Regions from separate parts of the Homo sapiens genome. Here region 1 is linked to region 2. The links come from fine-mapping of genetic effects on gene expression. Tissue or cell type: blood mononuclear cells. Region 2 holds a variant in brackets; the other region holds the start of a gene. All regions are shown on one strand. Distances are between the middles of the regions.

Evidence for each region. PIP is the estimated chance that this variant, and not a neighbour inherited with it, causes the effect.
Region 1: it holds the start of STX17, and the variant in region 2 is fine-mapped to the expression of STX17 in blood mononuclear cells (TOPMed, PIP above 0.99).

Annotation. Positions count from the first base shown.
Region 1 is chr9:99,902,131-99,910,234 of GRCh38, reverse strand. STX17 (syntaxin 17) reads right to left here and starts at 3,581. Exons shown (of 8, transcript NM_017919.3): 1 at 3,529-3,581. It overlaps STX17-DT (STX17 divergent transcript), which reads left to right and starts at 3,634. Exons shown (of 3, transcript NR_038853.1): 1 at 3,634-3,681. RefSeq lists an enhancer at 3,043-3,282 and a silencer at 3,443-3,842.
Region 2 is chr9:100,283,689-100,291,792 of GRCh38, reverse strand. INVS (inversin) reads right to left here. Exons shown (of 17, transcript NM_014425.5): 13 at 7,190-7,473. LOC124902235 (a long non-coding RNA gene) reads left to right here and starts at 7,472. Exons shown (of 2, transcript XR_007061700.1): 1 at 7,472-8,104. RefSeq lists enhancers at 6,856-7,356, 7,357-7,857. The variant G/T (reference allele first, on the strand shown) is at 3,538.

The DNA.
Region 1 (8,104 bases), 380 kb after region 2:
TTGAGACGGAGTCTCACTCTTTTGCCCAGGCTGGAGTGAAGTGGTGCGATCTCAGCTCACTGCAACCTCCGCCCCTTAGGTTCAAGTGACTCTCCTGCCTCAGCCTCCCAAGTAGCTGGGATTACAGGCACGTGCCACCACGCCCAGCTAATTTTTGTATTTTTAGTAGAGACGGGGTTTCACCATGTTGGCCAGGCTGGTCTCGAACTCCCGACCTCAGGTGATCCACCTGCCTCGGCCTCCCAAAGTGCTAGGATTACAAGTGTGAGGCACCATGCCCAGCTGCATTTCTTCTTTTTTTAATTTTTAATTTTTGTGGGTATATATTAGTAGTAGGTATATATTTATGGGATATTTGAGTTATTTTGATACAGGCATACAATGTGTAATAATCACATTAGGGTAAATGAGGTATCCATCACCTCAAGCATTTATTCTTTGTGTTGCAAACAATCCAGTTATACTCTTTTAGTTATTTTTAAATATACAATTGAATTATTATAGTCACCCTGTTCGGCTATCAAGTACTATATTTTATTCATCCTCTATCACTATTTTTTTGTACTCATTGCATTTCTTCTTTCATGAATTGCCTGTTCATGTCATATGCATCTGTTTTTACTACAGGGGATGTCTTTCTCTTATTAACTCATAAAAGGCTATTACATGTTAAATGTATCAATTATTTGTCTAACATTAACATTTCCCAATCTATCACACTGCCTCTTTTCTTTTCTTCTATACCACAAAGAGATTATCTTTATATCTACCATCATTCCTATCAAAATGTTTTTTGAACACACCTGTTGTTCAATAGATGCTGCCTGAACTAAAATATTTCTTCACACGTCCCTTCTATACAATTGCTAATCCTATCACTCTAGTCAAATAGCACAATATGCATAGCCATGATAATGGAGCTTCAATTAGTCTACCTTTAGACTCTTTCCCTCCAAAATGGAATATAAACTATAAAAACATAAACTGTATTATAAACGAATAGCATAACCACACTGAAAGAAGTGAGGAAGAAAAATTATCTAAGCCACTTTAGAAAACAATATTTTAACTGAATACTATAAGCCTAGAGACAAAAAGAACTACACTGTACTCTATTTAGTAAATGTGTTTCTCACAGGAACATAGGTCAGAAATCCTGAAATTACTTTATGTGTATACTAGGACTGAAGAAATAAGAAAATATTTTGTAGAATGCCAAGAGTCAGATTTCTCACTGTCAGATAAAAAGTTAAAAATAAGGGACAAAACTAGAATGAACCCTGTGGTGTTAGACTAGAAGCAAAGCTACTGGGATGAACTTTTGTTTTTAAAAAGTATATGGATAGACAAATACAGAAATAAACATAGATCTTTGTGTATGCATGGGTATGCATATGTATAGACTGGTGTCTTCTGTGGGGCCCTGGAAGCAATGTTACCCCAGTAGCAATGAGCATCCCTAGAGCACAGATCTTTGTGTTTAAATACTATTCTCCAAAAAAAGAAACTACGGGTCGTTGGAGAAGTGGCTGACTATCAGGGCTGAGGCACAGAAAACACAAGATGAGCCTGGGGCATCCTATGGTACCAGAAAATTAGGAAGTTCCAAAAAAGAAAAAAAAGGATGGAAGCATGCTGAAAAGCTACAGAAAGCAACCTGAAAGAAAACTCCCAATGATCAAAGCTGGAACAATTTCAAACATAAAATAACACAAGTGTAGGATAACAACCAATAGAAAAACATCTAAGTCCACATGGATACAAATAAATAACGGAATACAAATAAACAAATGGGAAATGGGCAGCTCATCCTTACAGAATAATTTCAATTAATAAAGAAATGAGGAAAGTAGAAAATCATCATTAGAACACCATAGTCATAATAATTGCTGAAGGCAAGATCCACCAATGGATGTGAAATTTAGCAAGGGAAAGTCTGAGGAGAAACAGGATATGCGTACGGTTTAAAAGCTCCCCCCCAAGATGTCAATTATAAGGAGAAAAATAAGACCTTTACATTGGAGAATCCCAGCAGACACTCTCTACCAAGTGATCAAGATTAACCTCACGAGCAATAAGTCATATATATCAGCTATGCTCATATGATGAACTGAGAAGGGCACACACACTTTTGTGTTCTTAACAAAAATGTATAACCTTAATCTAATCATGAGAGAACACTGGACAAACCCCATTTGAGGGGCACTCTACAAAATAACTGACCAGCATTCTTCAAAAGTGTAAAGATCAGAAAGAGTATAAAGACAGAAAAAGACTATCAGTGTAAAGACAGGAAAAGACAGAGGAACTGTCACAGACTGGAGGAGACCAAGGACCCAAGACAACTAACTGCAATGTCGGGTCTTAGAGTGGATCCTAGAATAGAAAAAGGACATTAATACAGGAAAAAAAATCACAAGTTAGTAATTCAGTTAATAGTATTATACTAATATTAACTTCTTGCTTTTGATAATTGCGCTATGGTATGTAAAAAATTATTAATGGAGGCAATAGGGAACTCTGTATTACTTTTGAAACTTTTCTGTAATTTTAAAATTATTTCAAAATAAAAAAGTTTTTTAGTATAAGAGGATGTTTCACGTAAGACAGGTAAAAACATTTAGAAGTCAAAGAACTGCCATCGTATTCACTGCATTAATACTTGGAGAGAGGGGTGCCAGGACTGTGCCAGGTGCTTTACAAACTTTATCATGTAGTGCTTACAACTAATATGAGATGGGTACCATAATACTCATGTTTCCCAGTAAGTTACTTAGGAGGTTATTAATAAGTGAAAGACCCCATTTCTCAGGAAACCCAGCCCCCAAAAGTGACGAACACCTTCCATCGGCCCAGAGCTCCCACTTTTCAGGATACTAGTGGCGCCCGATTTCTTCCGGCCCGCCGCTTAATGTTTCTGACTTATGGAAGAGATACCGAATTTGGAGAGAAAAGTCAAAGTAAAGTCTCCTCTCTGAACCTCGGTTAGCTAAAAGGAGGGAGCCAAGGTGTGGGACCTTCTGCCAACCACCTCTGGGTTTGGCGAGCAGGGGCTTCCGGCCTCTCGCTCCCAGTCCTCCGAGCCTCACTACCATCGAGCGTCGCGTCATTCCTCGCAGTGTCACCCACAGCACACCTGGGCCACACACACCAAACGCCCCCACCAGCGAACGGATGCGCGGGTCTGTCCCGGGACCCAGACGCCAGCGACCCTGGCGACCCGGGGCCTACAGCGCGCCAGAGACAGGACGCGCGCCGGAAACTTTTCCACCCCGCGACCCCGGGAGGCCGTCCTGCTCGCATCGTCTGCGGCCTCCCTATACCAGCTTCCAATAAAGCTTCCAAAAACGAAACCAAGCGAGGCTCCGCCACTTCTGAAAAACAGGAGGAGCCACCATGGCGCTCGCACTTCGGATCCAATGCCCTACTTGCCGCCCAGCGCCTCTTGCGCGCGCCACACGGGCGCCAGGCCCACCAAGCCTGTGAGGGCCCGACGCCCCCAAAGGCGGCCTCCAGAGAGCCCCTTACCTCCCGCCGGGGCGCTCGAGGCCGGTCGGTGGGCACGGCGCAGGCGCAGGAGCGACGGGGCGGGGCATCACGAGGGGTGGGCAGGGTTGGGCCCCGCCCCCGCCCCCGCCCCCGCCCCGCAGGGCCCCCAGGCCGGGCGCTGGGGGCGCACAGGTGAGTACAAATGCGGACGCTGCTGAGAACAGCGAAAGCCTTTTTCAAAAGTGATATTGATTTACGTTATGGGGTTGTGACTCGAGCCAAGAGGAGAGAGACGCACAAACGCTCTTTAGGTCTGCTTGTTGTGTTTAAGACAATTCATGCTTGTATGGCCGACTGCATTTCGCAGTTTTCCTGTCCGTTTTCCTCTGTTCTTCCTAGAATTTTATTTGCGGGTTGGGCATGTATTCTTAGCTCTGTTTTGAAACTGAAGCTCAGAAAGGTGGTGCCTCCCCATCCCGTCCCCAAAAGCCCTGTGAAGTGGACAGGGCAGGAGTGCCATCTTAATTGCAACAGGTGTAAAAATTAAAGCTCAGCAAATTGTGGTTTCCTCCAAAAACTGGTGGAGGGCTTAAGGCAAACGTCTTTATCCCGATTTTATAGATTATGACTCTGGGGTTTAACAAAGAGTTTTAAGTGACTCACTCCAGTTCAGCCAGCTTATGGCAGAGCTGGAACTCCAACTGGGTGTCCTAATTTCCTTCCCAAGTTATTCCAGTTAGACCAGCTGCAACCACATGAACAAGCAGGTGGCCGGCTTTGAAGCCTTGTCCAAGTCACAGGTCCTCCTCTCTTCATGGCCTAACTTCCAGATCCAGCCCTTTTAAAAAGATGTCTGTGAATATTCAGATGACGTGCTTAGAATGTATTCACTAATGGCATTGTCTCAGAAGTGATCAGGATGTTCAAACCACAGTTAAGGAAACTGAGTTCTTAGGGTCTTCCAGTAGAGTAGGAGGTAAACAGGGAAGATTAGGGGCCTGTAGATCCTTTAAAAAGCCTTGAAAGACAATTTCTAAAACAAAGCACCAAATCTACCAAGCAATTTGGATTTTCTTTGGGGACATAATGTATACTGATATTTGTTTTACAATGAGCTCCAGAATGTATTTATCAAATTTTGATTCTAAGGAGAAAAATTAAAGTATTAGGCAATACTGTGAGAAAATGTTTTTTATGCAAGGATCAGTGAAATAAGATCTTTTGAAATAAAAGATCATTTGTGTTAAGTTCTGAAAAAGCTTCCTCAGGTACAAAATCAGGAGGTGTGGTACTCAAAGATTCTAAATTTGGACCTGGACTTCTAAGTTGTTATATGTATGTTTGCTGTAAGTTAGGTGTGTCAAAGTAGTAGGATAAACATTTTTTTTTTTTTTTTTTTTTTAGACAGAGTCTTGCTCTTTCGCCCAGGCTGGAGTGCAGTGGCATGATCTCAGCTCACTGCAACCTCCACCTCCCAGATTCAAGCGATTATCCTGTGTCAGCCTCCTGAGTAGCTGGGACTACAGGCGTGTGCCAACATGCCCGGCTAATTTTTTGTATTTTTAATAGAGACAGAGTTTCACCATGTTAGCCAGGATGGTCTTGATCTCCTGACCTCGTGATCCGCCCGCCTCGGCCTCCCAAAGTACTGGGATTACAGGTGTGAGCCACCATGCCCGACCAAAACCTTTTAATCTAACTGTTGGTTAGCTTGATTTATAATCTTTAAATATTCAAACATATGGTGTGTGGACCTCTTTTGTGTACTCTAGGTCATCAAGTTGTTAGGGGCAGGCCTGCTACTACTGGCCGACATTTTCCTGAAGTCCTAACTGAACCCAGCAAGTCCAAACAAAACATTAAGTGTATATGTTGGAAAGAAAATTAAAAAAAATTCTTAGGGTGTTATGATTGATTGCTTTCTTGGAAAATCCATGGAATAAACTGAAACTAATTCAATAAGATGGCTATAAAATACCTCTCCTAAACAACAATCATCAATTTTAAAATGTAATGAGAAGAAGACTGGGCGTGATGGCTCATGCCTATAATCTCAGCACTTTGGGAGGCCAATGAGGGAGGATTGCTTGAGGCTAGAAATTCAAGACCAACCTGGGCAAAATAGTGAGACCCCATTTCTAAAAAAAACAAAAAAAACGTAGCTGGGTATGGTGGCATGTACCTATAATCCCAGCTACTCAGGAGGCTGAAACAGGAGGATCAGTTGAGCCCAGGAGTTTGAGGCTGGAATGAACTATGATCCCACCAGCCTGCACTCCAGCCTGCAGAAAAGACTGACACCCTGTCTCAAAAAAAAAAAAAAAAAAAAAAATTGAAATGTACTGGGAGGAAGATTACATTCAAAAATGACAAAAATCAAGTTTGTGTTTATAAGGAATTACAAGACCTATTTGAAGAATTGAGAATAATAGCTAGATGAGGGATAGGGGTGGAAGGAAGGATCACAAAGGGGCATAAGGAAACTTTGGGAGTGATAGAAATGTTCATTATCTTGATTGTGGTAATAGCTGCATGGACGTATATATATGTCAAAACTTACCAAATTGTACACTGTAAATATGTTTATGTATAAGTGCTTATTGTATGTGAATTATACCTAAATAAAGCCATGTAAAAAGGGAGGGGGGAAGAAGTAGCTTTTTATTTGATTGCATGTGATGTGTAAAGCACTTGGTTAGGCGCTTTACATGCAATATGTTATTTAATACTGATGACAACCCATGAAGTAGGTATTACAATCACCCCCTTCATACAAACTAGGAAATTGAGGCTTAGAGAGTAACTTGACCAAGGTCCAAGTCTCATATACTACATAACAGGAGTAAGACTCAAATCTTACGTAACAGTATTTATACTTTAACCTGACTTCCATATTTCCATATAAGATACAAGTAAAGACTTGACTATGTGGAAAAGTAATACAGTCAATATTGTAAAGTTGTCCATTTCCACCAAACTAACTTAAAAATTTATCAAAATCCCATTATGATTTTTCTCTTTCTTTTTCTTTCTTTCTTGTTTTTCTTTCTTTTCTTTCTTTTTTCCTTCCTTCCTTCCCTTCCTTCCCTTTCTTTTCCTTTCCTTTCTTATTTCCTTCCTTCCTTCCCTTTTTTCCTTTCCTTTCTTATTTCCTTCCTTCCTTTTCCTTTCCTTTCTTATTTCCTTCCCTCCCTTCCTTCCTTCCTTCGTGTTTTGTTTTGAGATAGAATCTTGCTTTGTCACCCAGACTAGAGTGCAATGGGGGTGATCATGGTTCACTGCAGCCTTGACCTCCTCCTGCCTCAGCTTCCCAAGAAGCTGGAACCACAGGTGTATGCCACTATGCTGGGCTAATTTTATTTTTCTAGAAATTGGGACTCCCTGTGTTGCCCAGTCTAGTCTCCAATTCCTGAGCTCAAGTGATCCTCCTACCTCAGCCTCCCAAAGTGCTAGGATTACAGGTGTGTGCCACCACACCAGGCCCCCTTTATGATTTCTATAATAAAACATTTTAAAAAATCCAAATTGATTTTGCAACTATTACTCTTTCTTCTTAGAATGCCATTTTTTGCCTGCTTTCCCCCATCTCTTTCCCCCCACCCCAGAGTAAAGAAATTACTCTTTATTCTGCTGGACTCAAAAGTCATCTCACCTAGGAAGCTTCTCCCACTGATATGGTTTGGCTCTGTGTCCCCACCCAAATCTCATCTTGAATTGTACTTCCATAATTCCTACATGTTGTGGGAAGGACCTGGTGGGATATAATTTGAATCATGGGAGATAATTTGAATCATGGGGGCGATTTCCCCCATACTGTTCTCATGGTAGTAAATAAGTCTCAAGAGATCTGATGGTTTTATCAGGGGTTTCCACACTTTTGCATCTTCCTCATTTTCTCTTGCTGCTGCCATGTAAGAAGTGCCTTTCACCTCCCGCCATGACTCTGAGGCCTCCCCAGCCATGTGGAACTGTAAGTCCAAATACAGTTCTTCTGTATTTCTTCCCAGTCTTGGGTATGTCTTTATCAGCAGCATGAAAATGGACTAATACAGTAAATTGGTACCAGTAGAGTGGGGCGTTGCTGAAAAGGTACCCAAAAATGTGGAAGCAACTTTGGAACTGGTTATCAGGCAGAGGTTGGAACAGTTTGGAGGGCTCGGAAGAAGACAGGAAAGTGTGGGAAAGTTTGGAGCCTCCTAGAGACTTGTTGAATGACTTTGACAAAAATGCTGATCGTGATATTAACAATAAGGTCCAGGCTGAGGTGGTCTCAGATAGAGATGAGGAACTTGTTGGGAACTGGAGCAAAAGTGACTCTCGTTATATTTTAGCAGAGACTGCCAGCATTTTGCCCCTGCCCTGGAGATTTGTGGAGCTTTGAACTTGAGAGAGATGATTTAGGGTATCTGGTGGAAGAAATTTCTAAACAGCAAAGTATTCAAGAGGTGTCTTGGGTGCTGTTAAAGGTATTCAGTTTTATCAGGGAAGCAGAGCATAATAGTTTGGAAAATTTGTAGCCTGACAATGTGACAGAAAAGAAAATCCCATTTTCAGAGGAGAAAGTCAAGCTGTCTGCAGAAATTTGCATAAGTAATGAGGAGCCAAATGTTAATCG
Region 2 (8,104 bases):
ATGACAAGGAAGTTTGTTTCAGCCCAGGTTCTGGATGGGGTAAGGAGTCTCCCATAAGAATTTAAAACCAAAGTCGTCTTCCTTACATGGGCTTGGTATTCATTTATTCTCAATCCATAGGAGATATTACTATAAAAACTGGTCTTAGGATGGAGATATCCCAGGATGCCTCACAGAAGCAAACACAATATTGCTTTAGTGTGACATGCCCTCAACTCAGGCTGCACAACGGAGTCCTCTGAAAATGACTTCACAATCCAAAATCACAAAATGCATGAGGAAACAATGTACCATAAGCAACAGTTAACACAATAGCAAGATCAGATCTCTCAAAACGTTAGCACACACACGTTGATTAAACACACAAAAGAAGTTTAAAATACGAGAAAAGGATAGATTTGAAAAACAAATACAACATCTAAACTGAAAAATATGCCAGGCACGGTGGCTCATGCCTGTAATCCCAGCACTTTGGGAGGCCGAGGCAGGAATCATGAGGTCAGGAGTTTGAGACCAGCCTGACCACCATGGTGAAATCTCGTCTCTACTAAAAATACGAAAATTAGCTGGGCATGGTGGCGCACGCGTGTAGTCCCAGCTACTTGGGAGGCTGAGGCAGGAGAATCGCTTGAACTCGGGAGGCAGAGGTTGCAGTGAGCTGAGACTGCACCACTGCACTCCAGCCTGGGTGACAGCGAGACTCCGTCTGAAAAAAAAAAAATTCTTAATAAAACAGGCACATAGATTATCCAGATAATGTGTTTTCAGAAACAGACTTTAAAATAACTGTTCTGGCTGGGTGCAGTGGGCCCAGCACCTTGGGAGGCTGAGGCAAGAGGATTGCTTGAGCCAAGTCTGAGACAAGCCGGGACAACATAGTGAGACCCCATTTCTAAAAATAAAACAAAAAAACAATTATCCAGACATGGTAGTGCATGCCTGTAGTCCCAGCTACTCAGAAGGCTGAGGTGAAAGGTCGCTTGAGGCTGGGAGGTTGAGGGTGCAGTGAGCTGTTTGTGCCACTGCACTCCAGCCTGAGCAACAGAGTGAGACTATGTCTCAATAATGTAAAATAAAATACTCTTAAGTGCAAAAGAGCTATCTAAACTATACTACTCTTCATGTAAGAAAGAAAGGGATGGGCTGGGTGTGATGGCTCACGCCTGTAATCCCAGCACTTTGGGAGGCCGAGGTGGGCAGATCACCTGAGGTCGGGAGTTCGAGACCAGCCTGACCGATGTGGAGAAACCCTGTCTCTACTAAAAATACAAAAAAATTAGCTGGACATGGTGGTGCATGCCTGTAATCCCAGCTACTCCGGAGGCTGAGGCAGGAGAATCACTTGAACCTGGGAGGCAGAGGTTGCGGTGAGCCAAGATTGCGCCACTGCACTCCAGCCTAGGCGACAAGAGCGAAACTCTGTCTCAAAGAAAGAAAGAAAGGGATATAAGAAAATATACCTATATCTGCTCATTTGTGAAAAAGAAATATAGAAAACATAAAGCAAAAACTAAAGAAATTGATTACCTGCAGGAGTTGAGTGGGAAAGAGGTGGAAAGAAAAGAGAAATGGGAGCTGGATAGTAGAGATGAAGAGGGAGTGAGAGACACTTCTCTGGCTCCACCTTTTTGTATAGCTCTGACTCTTAGAGCTGTTACAATGTTTCACATATATGCAACCCCCACCCCACCGGGCCAAAAAAAAAACTAAAACTACAAGATACCACTACACACCTATTAGAATGGCAAAAATCCAAAACAGTGACCAAATGCTGGTGGGGATGTGGAGCAATAAGAACTTTCATTCATTGCTGGTAGGAATGCAAAATGGTACATCCACTTTGGAAGACAGTTTGGCAGTTTCTTACAAAACTAAACATATTCTTACATAAGATCCAGCAATCACACTCCTTTATATTTACTCAAATAAGTTGAAAACTTATGTCCATACAAGCTGCACAGGGATGTTATAGTAGCTTTATTCATAACGGCCAAAACATGGAAGCAACCAAGATGTTTCTTCAGTAGGTGAATGGATAAACTGGGTGACATGCAGTTTCTGCCTTCTCTCAAGAGTACTGCTCTGAGAACAATATATGTAAGGAAGATAGTCTAACCTACTGGAGAACAAAAGGCCATATAAAGGAGAATAGAGACAGCCAACAGCCACCACCAATTGCCAGATATATGAAGGCGGCCATCTTGGCCACATCTTGTGCAAATTCTATCAACCTCATGAATGAGCCCAGGTGATCGAGAAGAGGAACTGCCCAGGTAGCCCATGGGACTGTGAGAAATAATAAACTTCTGTTGTTTTAAGCCACTTAGTTTTGGGAGTGTTTTATTATGCCACAAGAGATAACCAACACAGATATTTATATCTATAAAAGAGAGGTACTGTCTTAAAATACAAAACCCAGGGTATTGACTTTGGACTGGTTGGTGAGCAGAAGCTGGGAAGGCAATGAAGAGACTGCTGGTGAAGGCTCGAAGAGCAGAAAAGAAATTGCTGTTGGAATCTAGAGAGAAGTGAACCTTGTTATTCAGTGGCAGAATTAACTGGCAAAATTGTCACTTGCAGTAACATAGAAGATAGAAAATATACCTAATGGAGCTGTAGATACAGTTCAGGAAGTTTCCAGGTGGAATGTAGAACAAAATGTCAACTGCTTTTTAAGCTACATATGACAAAGTATGGGGAGAAAACAAATAAAATGAAGGAAAAACTGCTCCGTTTGTAAGCAAAATTTAGAGATAATGTAAAGATCCCGGGATGTGCTGGGTTAGAAAATAAAACTATTTTAACATTTTTATTCTTTCCAACCAGCAAAAGAGTCTCATAGGCCTCAGCATAAAGATCAAATCAGGGCGGACACAATAACTAACACTTATAAAATCCCAGCCCTTTGGGAGGCCAAGGCAGGTGGTTTGCTTGAGTCCAGGAGTTTGAGACCAGCCTGGGCAACATGATGAAATCTCATCTCTACAAAAAAGAAATGCAAAAAATTAGCCAGGCATGGTAGCGCACACCTATGGTCCTAGCCACCCGGGAGGCTGAGATGGGGGGATCACTTGAACCTGGGAGGCAGAGGTTGCAGTGAGCTGTGCTTGAACCACTGCACTCCAGCCTGGGTGACAGGGTGAGACCCTGTCTTAAAAAAAAAAAAAAGTATGGTTGTACAACCCTTTATTAAGACTCAAAAATATTTGAGGTGGTACATAATAGGCCCTCTCAGCTCGACAAAAAAATTTCTAAGAATCTCAAGGGCATTTTCCCACAGAAATCTAAGCCACTCAAATTAGAGCAAAGCTTGTTTGAAAAATAATGGATGTGGCTTTTGAAATATGAAATGAATCCAATCAGATTCGCAGGAAACCCATGAAGTTTTTGAGATAATCGCATTATTGAGAGTACCACAAGCTTGAACTGGTGACATAGTTCAAATCAAAAAGAAGCCTCTGGGGCCCCAGTATCCTATAGTCAGGAGATAGGCTGAGAAAGCTACTCAGCTGCAAACATGGGCATTTCTTAGGAAAA[G/T]GAAGGACTTCTCAGAGAGCAGAGCCAAGAATTCAGGTAGCAGAGCCAAGAGACATGGAGAACAATGGAATAGGAAGCCACCAGGAGTAATATGAGACCCTAATCAAGGAATATTTACCTCAGAGTAGGGGCCCTGGTAAAATGTGACCAGCTGGTTTTCAGAATTGCTACGGACTAATGGCTGCTATACGCCTCCTATTCCACCCTCTTTTGTCTACTGTGGTTATTCTGTTCCTGTCTTACCACTGTTTGTTGGGTGTGGGGGGTGTTGATAATGTATCTTTTTGGCTCATTGGTCTCTGAATCAGAAAGAGTCCCAGCTGGTGAACCTGAACCACATCTAGTTCATGTCTTAAAATCCTAGACTTCAAGTGTGATGAGATAATCAGGATGAGATTTTGGGGTACTGAGATAGGGATGTATTAGTCCGTTCCTACACTGCTATAAAGAACTACCTGAGACTGGGTAATTTATAAAGAAAAGAGGTTTAATCGACTCACAGTTCCACAGGCCTAACAGGAAGCACAACTGGGAGGCCTCAGGAAACCTACAATCATGGTGGAAGGCAAAGGGGAAGCAAGCACCTTCTTCACATGGTAGCAGGAGAGAGCATGAGCGAGCGGGGAAGTGCCACACACATTTAAACCATGAGATCTTGTAAGAACTCACTATCATGATCCAATTACCTCCCACCAAGTCCCTCCCCGAACACTGGGAATTTGGGTGGGGACACAGAGCCAATCCATATCAAGGGGTAAGAATATCTTGCATGTGGGAGGAATGTGAATAATCTGTGACCAAATAGGAACTATGACAGATTGTTTAATAGCCAAAAATTCCTCCCATCTTAGTATGCACAAAGGTGGAATCTATTTCTCGACATCATTTGGTCTGGGATGGTCTCGTAACTTGCTTTGATCAATATAATGTGTGCAAATTCTAGAGTCTATTTCTCAAGAGGTCTTGTGGCTTTTATCTTCGCTTTCTGAAAATGCTGTCCTGAGACCACAATGTAAGGAAGCCAGTCTAGTCTACTGGAGGATGAAAACCACGTAAACCAGAGTCAAGGAATCCCATCTGATAGCCAGCATCAATTGCTAGACATTTAAGTGACTATATCTTAGACATGGAATTCCACTGACTCTCCACCTGAATGCAGACACATGAGTGAGACCAGATGAAGCCCGTAAACAAACTTCCCAACCAAAATAGAATCATAAAAATTAAATTGTCATTGTTCAAAGTCACTTTGTTTTTGTGTGGTTTGTTATACAGCAGTAGATAATGGAAGCAACCCTACTCTTACAGATCTTGCAGTTTGGTGGAAAAAATGACAAGTAAACCAGTAATAACAGTAAAAAGTGATGATCTTTATAAGAGGGAAGTATAGGAGAAGTATGGAAGCAATAGCAGGAAACTATAGCCTCCTTTAGCGGGGAGATATTGGTTGAACAGAAGAAGAAACATTATCCCTGATATCTAAAAAATAAGGTAGAGGGAGTGGCATCTGCAAAGGCCCCAAGCTAAGAAAGAACTCAAGGAAGTTCAACATGGCTGTCACATTATGGGAGCTTAATTAAAGCTGGTTGGATGAATAAATGAATGAATATGTACCAAAGCATCATGAGTATATAATCCTTAAGGATTACACTGTAAAGTGGATTATGGAATTATATTCCAGAAATGTTTATATTCATTTTAGATATATATATTTTTTGAGACAGAGTCTCACTGTCACCCAGGCTGGAGTGCAGTGACGCAATCTCGGTTCACTGCAACTTCCGCCTCTCAAGTTCAAGCAATTCTTGTGATTCAGCCTCCTGAGTTGCATGCACCACGATGCCTGGCTAATTTGTATATTTTTAGTAGAGATGGAGTTTCGCCAAGTTGGCCAGGCTGGTCTTGAACTCCTGGCCTCAAGTAATCCACCTGCCCCAGCCTCCCAAAGTGTTGGGATTATAGGTGTGAGTCACTGCACCCGGCCTGTAGTCATTTTATGTATACTTTTCTGTAGTTGTTCTTGGCTAGATTAATGAGTGGCTCAATAATAATAGTTACTGAAAACCTATGATGAGTTATGGGCTATAACAAGTACACTACATGAATTATTTCTATCCATAGCTACCTTGTGGTGTAGAAAGTATACCCTCACTTTATAGCTAAGGAAGTTAAGGTTCAAAGAAACAGATTGAACTGTCCAAGCCCTGAATTCAGTAATCATGAAGTTCCAGAGCCCCTTTCTGAGAAAGTCCATAAGGTCAGGGCTATTTTCATAATAATACGAAGACATTATTTGCCTTTTTCACTGTGTTGGCATTTGCACTTAGATTTTGGGAAAGCTCCTACCGTTCTCTAACTTATAAGAGTAGCTCAGTGTGTTTAAATTGCTTCGTGCAAACAATAGGGTTCGTGCTGCACACCTTTCCTTCTGGGAGTCTGGAATTTTGGCATATGCTAGGCAGAGGGTATCTATGTGACTGACTCCAGATAAAAATCCTGGAGTCCTAGGTTCATGTGAGCTTTCTTTGTCAACAAAAGATTGTCTGACTGGTTGTTACAATTTATTGCAGAAGGAATTAAACGTGTTGTGTGTGACTCCACTGGGAGAGAGCCGTTGGAAGCTCGTGCCTAATTTCCTCTGGACATTGCTCCATACACCTTTTCTCTTTGCTCATTTTGCTTTGTGTCCCTTTGTTATAATAAATCCTAACTGGGAGTACAACTATATGCTCAGTCAAACTAGTAAATCCTCCAACCTCACCAAACCTGGTGGTAGTCTTGGGGATGGGGATCATGGGGATCCCTGACACACAAGTAAACTCTAAATAGGATAAACTGCAAAAAGCCATGCCAAGACACATCATATTAAACTTCTGAAAGCTAATGATAAATTTTAAGATCTTGAAAGCAGCCAGAGAGAAATGACATATTACCTAGGACTGTTACTGAGAAACACCAATTTGAATGACAGTGGATTTCTCATCTGAAACCATGGAAGCCAAAAGGAAATGGCACAATATTTTTCAAGTGCTAAAAGAAAAGAACTGCCAACCCTGAATTCTATATCTGGCTTAATGATTCTTCAGGAATCAAATAAAAACATTCTCAGACAAAGGAAAACTGAAAGAATTTGTTGCTAGCAGACATACCCTTAAAGATTGGCCATAGAAAGCTCTTCATACAGAAAGGAAATGATACAAGAATCTTAGAGCATCAGGAAGGAAGAAGAAACAACAGAAGAGCAGAAATACAGGCGGGCGCATAAAATGTTATTTCCTTTGTGAGTTTTATAAATTGTATTTCATGATTGAAACAAAATTTATAACACCATCCGATACCTAAGCAATGAAACGTAAAAGTGGACAAAGTGAATGGAAGTGAGGTTTTCACACTTCACTCTAAAAAAGAAAAGAAAACAAAAAACCATAAATCAATCAAGATAGAATTTTTAAAAATGCTGAAGTAACCTACAGGAAGGGAAAAAAAAGAAAAAGAACTGAGAACCAGAGGAAACAAGTAGAACACAAATCATAAAGTGGCGGTCCTAGGTGCTAATATAACAATTATCTTAAGTGTAATTGGTCTAAATACACCAATCAAAAAAGCCCACAGTCCATGGGCCGGCAGAAGATGACAAAGGCAATACACCTACCATTTGGCCTTCTGGAGTTTGTTCCCTGCAAATCTGAGGAAACATGCTGCTCCTTCTGGAGGGCTCCGCCTAGAGACCCTCCTGGAGATCCTCTGCTGTCTCTTGGCTCAGGGCCTTGGGCCACGTTGCCAGCAGGAGGCTGCTTGCTGGGGGCCCGGCTCTGCCTGCTGGGCACATCCTGGGTGCTAGGCAGACAGGGAAGGGCCTGGGGTCTGCAGGAATCTGGGCTCCGCCTTCCTTTTTGCTGTTCTGCCTCTTTTCGTTTGTTTTCTTCCTCTCGCTTTCTGGAAGCAAAGCCAAAGAAGAAGATGAAAAAATTTAAAGAGTATCACCTCCTCAAGTCTCTGTGTGAGTTTAAATTTTAAGAGGAGCTACTACATCACAGGAGATATTTGGAAATTTGCATTTTCCAAGAGCAGTCTTTTCTCCAGATAAAATAAAAACCATCTCTTTTACACCAGGCCTTATAGCCCAAAAGATGATGGAGCAGAAAAGTTTATAGATCAGTCTTTGTGCTGTTGAGACACATGACAGATAACCAGGCAACTTTTCTGTGTGAAACATAACACACTCCCAACGGTGTATGTGCCCCAAGCTTATGTGTGATCCCTGGAGCTACCTGTAACTCCACCCATTTTTCTCCTGTTTCAGAAAGCACACCAGAATGCTACCGAGAATGACAGTCAAAGGGATAACCTTGAATCTGCTCTATTCATTTAAAAAAGCCCATCAAACCTTAATGATCATATAAAAAGTCACTTGCAAAGTACCTTGCCAGTGATTAAAACACACCTGTGAGTTGCAGATGCTGCCGTTGACAGCTCTAGCTAATGAGTCAGATCCACTCATTTTACAGATGAGACCCAGAAGGTAGGGTGATTTTCAAAAAGTCACACATAAGTAGCTGGTGGCAAA